Regions from separate parts of the Homo sapiens genome. Here region 2 is linked to region 1. The links come from fine-mapping of genetic effects on gene expression. A gene starts in region 1. The other region holds a variant in brackets. All regions are shown on one strand. Distances are between the middles of the regions.

Evidence for each region. PIP is the estimated chance that this variant, and not a neighbour inherited with it, causes the effect.
Region 2: its variant is fine-mapped to the expression of KTN1-AS1 in skeletal muscle (FUSION, PIP 0.95).

The regions. Positions count from the first base shown.
Region 1 is chr14:55,578,554-55,581,053 of GRCh38, forward strand. KTN1-AS1 (KTN1 antisense RNA 1) reads right to left here and starts at 1,539. Exons shown (of 3, transcript NR_027123.1): 1 at 1,383-1,539; 2 at 53-184. It overlaps KTN1 (kinectin 1), which reads left to right and starts at 1,654. Exons shown (of 44, transcript NM_001079521.2): 1 at 1,654-1,801. RefSeq lists enhancers at 879-998, 1,009-1,098 and silencers at 1,539-1,798, 1,859-2,498.
Region 2 is chr14:55,532,402-55,535,417 of GRCh38, forward strand. No RefSeq gene overlaps it. Among named protein-coding and RNA genes, the nearest start is that of KTN1-AS1, 46 kb to the right of the region's middle. The variant G/A (reference allele first, on the strand shown) is at 1,719.

The DNA of each region.
Region 1 (2,500 bases):
TTGTAAGCTAATCAAGAGCCCTTAAACTCCATTACATAAATGATACACTTACCCTTTGTATTAAGGGACTAACGGCTTCGCTTTTCAACAAAGCTGGATCTTCTGGCACACGCTCAGAAGATAGCCAGTACTTCAGAGACAGATTGCTTTGAGGGCACTGGAACCGCTGAGGGGCAGAGTAATCCTAATGAGAAAGAAAAAAGAGGACGCCTCTGGAGTTAAAATAAGACAATGCATCTGTGGAGAACACGGTGACTGAAGACTGGCAGAATTCTCAATATCTCAGGCCACTATACACTGCGCAGTTTTCATTTGTATTTTGGAGGTGCTCTAGAAAACTTAGAAATGATTAGAATAAAAAGTATGGATACTTTTAACCAGCCCATGTACAGGAAATTCTGTTGGTGTAGAAACGGTTCTGCTGTTCATTCCTTAACTGCTTCTGTTCCCACTTTGTCAGATGTAGGGCGAGGTGGTGGTGGTGAGTCCTAATTTTTTCTATCTCTATCCACAGTCTGGAATCGTTAGGATTATTTTAAGCCTTCATAACATTTGCGGACAGCTTGGAGTGTTTTGTACATGTAGTGGGGCAGTGCCTGGCCTCCTGTGAGAGATTGATCATCGGTAAACAATCCACACGAAACTCACTTGCCAGTGGACGGGGAGGATCGCTGCCATCCTTTCAGCAAAGAGCAAACGAATAAGGAGAGATCCGGGCCCATCCCTCCTCGCGCAGCAGTTTCTAGATTTTTACCCCGGCTTCATAAATGGCTACCAGCTGGCAGTCACAACACTTTCATAATGTTTGCACACAACTCATTTGGGTCGCTTTCTTTTCTTTCCTTTTTTTTTTTTTTTTTTTGAGAGAAACGGAGAGTCTTACTCTCTCGCCCAGGCTGGAGTGCAGTGGCGAGATCTCGGCTCACTGCAACCTCCGCCTCCTAGATTCCTGCGATTCTCCTGTCTCAGCTTCCCAAGTAGCTGGGGCTACAGGCGTGCGCCACTATGCCCAGCTAATTTTTTGTACTTTTTTTGGCAGAGACGGGTTTTACTATATGTTGGCCAGGCTGGTCTCGAACTCCTGACCTCAGGTGATCCGCCTGCCTTGGCCTCCCAAAGTACTGGGGTTACAGGCGTGAACCACCGCGCCCGACCATTATTTGGGTCGCTTTCTAATTTCTTTCTCCGTTTGTAGCTAGCGTTGCCCGAAGGAGATTTCAGAGAGATCCCCTGGAGAAAGGGACGGGGGATGTCGTTTTCCAGTAATTTCTGGGGGAAATCTGGGATAGTCAGGGGGTAAATCTAGTGCCGTTTGCTGAAGTTAAAAGGCGTGGGGAGCCAGGTGGTGCCCTGGAGGGAGGGCCGCGCGAGACGAGACCAACCTTCGGGACAGGGGAGAGCGGGGCTACTGAACGCAGGGGATTCCGCTGAGCCTCCAGCCCCTGAGCGTCCACCTTCGGCCCAGCTGGGGGACGCGGTCTCGGGAAGAAAGCCCGGAATCCCGAGCCGGCCAGCCGCGAGCAGCGAGTACCGGAGCGCGTGGGCAGGCGCGCGGAGGCAGAGGCGGGCCGGCGGCTGTCCCTTTAAGGGGCCGGTCTCCCGGCGCCGCCGGCCCAGACGCCAGGACGTGCCGGGTCCGCCCCGCCCCGCCCCGAAGCCGCCCGTTTCCTGCCGAGCGGCGCGACGGCACCTGAGCGACTGCGGCGGCGGCGGCGGCGGCGGCGGCGCCTCGGAGCGGGCGGCCCGGGCTGTAGTGCCGGCGCCGCCGCGTCTTCCCGGTCTCCTTTCCCGGCCGCACAGGGTGAGGGAGAGCAGGCCGCACCGGGACGGGCGCCGGCGGCGGGGAGCGCGGGGGGAGGCGGCGCCGGCCGCGGGGTCCTGGGGCAGGCGGGAGGGCCGCGCCGGGCGGGGGGGCGCGGCCGCGGGGCCCGGACGCCGCCCGCTGGGTAGGCCTCGGGCATCCGGTTGCCGCCGCGGGGCTCTTGTTGGGGCCGGGACGCCGCAGGGGGCGGGCTCGGAGGGACCTCCTCGGCCTCGCGGGGCCGCTCTGGGCCCGACCCCGGCTCTGTCGCGGCACCCGGGGCGCGGCCGAGGGACACCCCCCACCCTCCCCAAGGACGACTCTCCCGAAGGCGAGGTCGACCCGAGCGGGCCCTGGGGTGACCGAGGCACCTATTTTTAGCCAAGCCTGAGGGCCCCCGGGAGGGAAGGCGGATTACCGCCTCCTCGGCCGGTGGACGGAGGCAGCGCGTCTCCGGCGGCGTCCCCGGGCCGGAGCTGGGCCACACTTACGCCATGCTGGAGTTCCAGTCCTCGCCGCTGCCTCCGGCGGTCTGGGCGCTCGCCCCCTTCCCCGGCGCCCCTCCCGCTGCCCTTTGCGAGTCCCCAGGTCAGGGCGGGAGGCGGTTGGGCACGGAAAGCAGCATGAGGGGGGACTTTGGAAAAATCCATGGACCACTCTCGACACCGGCGAAGTTATCCCTTCCTGTCCCCGAGGGGT
Region 2 (3,016 bases), 46 kb before region 1:
TATAAAGTGCTCTATATCAACAATCAAATTCAATAATCAAAGTATTGATAATCAAATTCAACCCATATGACAGGCATATGTGGTGAGTGCTATTATTTTCTTCATTTTATTGATGAAGAAACTGAGCTCAGAGAGGTTTAAAGATGTGCCTGAGTTAGTAAGTAGTAGAGTTGGATTCAAACCAGTGATCTCTAGCAGTTGAGGAAAAGTCCATGAGAACATGACTCTCAAAAAACAATTAGTGCTTGAGTCCAGGAGTTGGAGACCAGTCTGGGCAACATAGGAGACGCTGTCTCTACAAATAATTTTAAAAATTAGCCAGGTGTCATGGCCCACACTTGTGGTCCCAGCTACTTAGGAGGCTGAGGTGGGAGGATCACCTGAGTCTGGGAGGTCAAGGCTGCAGTGAGCTGTTATTGCGCCATTGCACTCCAGCCTGGACAACAGAGCAAGACCCCACCCTGTAAATTAGGTATTTCCTGGTATGAAGGCTGGAGGAGATGAGTGAGGGTAGGGCAGTCCTGGAAAGAGAGAAGATGGCGCAAGGGTTTGGGAGACAGGATCCCTGGGGTCTGTTAGGGATGCAGGGAGCAATTGGTAGAGCACTGGGTGACGGGTGGGGTGGAGAGGGGAGAGAAGGCTGCAGAAGCAGCAGGGCCCAGAGCACAGGCCCCTTGTGTCCTATTGAGGAATGGCAGGTTTGTTTCATGAAAGGCACTTAAGCAGGAGAGTGACAGGATCAGATGGGCATTTCAGCACAATTGTTCTGGCGGCAGTGAGGATTAGAGAAAAGGAGGCAGGAAACTATTTGTCTCTGTCTCGGGAGACCAGGAAAGTAATCCCGTTCCTGAGAATTTAGCCTGGAGAAACTCTCAAACATCTGTTCAAAAACAGCAATGCTCCACTGTTTGTATTAGCAAAAAACCCTAAATGTTCTTCCACAGAGAATAAATAAATAGATTGTAGTATAGAGCCATAATAGAATACCATATGGTAGTTAACATGAATGAATTAGGGCAACATGTGGCAAAAAGAAGAAAAAACAAAATTGAGTGAAGGAAGCAGGCTGCAGAGAATATATACAGTATGACGTTATTTTAGTAAAGTTTAAAAACCTACAAAGTGCACTTTGAATTGTTTATGAACATATAAATGTCTACAGAAAATATTAACATACGTGAGATTGATAATAGCAAATTCATGAGAATGCCCTGGGAAAGGGGGACTCAGGGACTAGGGGACGAGCTAGTCAAGGTGGGTTTCAATACCTATATTTTTATATAATATGTATTAATACATATGTAGTAAGTAAGTAGTGGAGCTGGATTCAAACCAGTGACCTCTGGCAGTTGAAATATACATTAAATACATAAATTTATATATATTTCTTTAAATAAACTGGCAAACATGACATGATAATGTTGAGATGTTGATAAAACTAGTAGAACACAATTGTTTATTATTCTCTGAACTCAATTGTATATTTGAAACAGATTATGTCATTTTTAAAAAGTGAAGCTTGGACCCAAAAGCAAAAGAACAAAGAGGAAGAAAGAAAAGAAAGCAAGCACTCTGGAAGCAGTGCAGCCCAAGACAGGGAGCTGGGCGATAGACCCCGAGATGTCCTCCAAGAAGTGGCGTGAACTGGTGCAGTGGCAGCAGGAAAGGGAGGCCGTGGGAAGCAGGTGGACTGTTGGGTCATGGGAAGTGGGGGAGGC[G/A]GTGGAATCCAAATGACTCCCAGCATTTTGGCTGGTGTGGCTGAGTGGGTGGACAAGCCAATCACCAAGAAAGGGAATGTAGGAGAAGTAACAGGTTTGGCTGGGTTGTGATGCACAAAGATCAGTTTCAGACTTGTTCAGTTTGACATTCTTCCAGGAAGAAACATCCAATATGCAATCTGATTTTTAGGCTGGGGGTTCAAGGTCTGGGACAGAAATAGAAATTTGGTCATCATCAGCATTTGGGGGAAATCATGATCATTATGAGATTATAAGTCTTAATTTAACAAAAATGCACATATATACTATGCATAACAATTAAAATGTTTTGTTTTGCTTGTTTTTGTTTTTTAAAGAGACAGGGTCTTGCTCTGTTGTCCAGGCTGGAGTGCAGTGGTGCTGTCATAGCTTGCTGCAGCTTTGGACTCCTGGGCTCAAGTGATCCTCTCACCTCAGCCTCCTGAGTGGCTGGGACTACAGGCACGAACTACCATGCCTGTCTAATTTTTAAATTTTTTGTAGAGATGGAGTCTTGCTATGTTGTCCAGGCTGGTCTTGAACTTCTGGCCTCAAGTGACTTTCCTGCCTTGGCCTCCCAAAGTGCTGGAATTATGGGGGTGAGCCACAGCACCTGGCTAAAATATATTTTAATGGAAGATGAGCTCAGGTACAAGAAGTATCATATGTAAGTAAAATACTAATTCTGACTTTTACTCATTGTATTGGAAATTCTAAAAGTAGTAACCTGCCCCATTACCTATGATGTGGAGTATTGTGTGGTCTGAAGGAACTTAATAATGATCCACCAGCAAAAAGACATTGCCAAATCACCAATGGGAAACCAACCTGATGTTGGCAACCCAGCTAATGCTCAGAATCACCAGGGTAATCTACAAAAGTGATGCAGAATTCAGACTGACTGAACCAGAATCCTGGGGGCGGGGCCTAAGAATCAGATTTTTGAAAAGCTCCATAATCAGGCTGGTCATTGGTTGGGTGTAGGAGATGCGGTAACAGTTCCTGGACAGCAGTCGCCATCTGCCTTGGTGGGGTCTGTCTGCCTCTGTGTGATGCTCCACTGGGACCTTGGAAAAATCATTTCAACTCTTTGTTTTTTGGTTTGTTTATCTATAAATGGGGGTAAAAATAGTACCTACTCTTGGGTTAGCTGTAAGGATTAAATGAATTAATTTATGTCAACTACTTATAATAGGGTCTGGCACAATAGTATAAACATGCCATAAAAGATAGTTACTAGTTTTTATTAACATATATGCCACAAGTGCACTGGCACACCA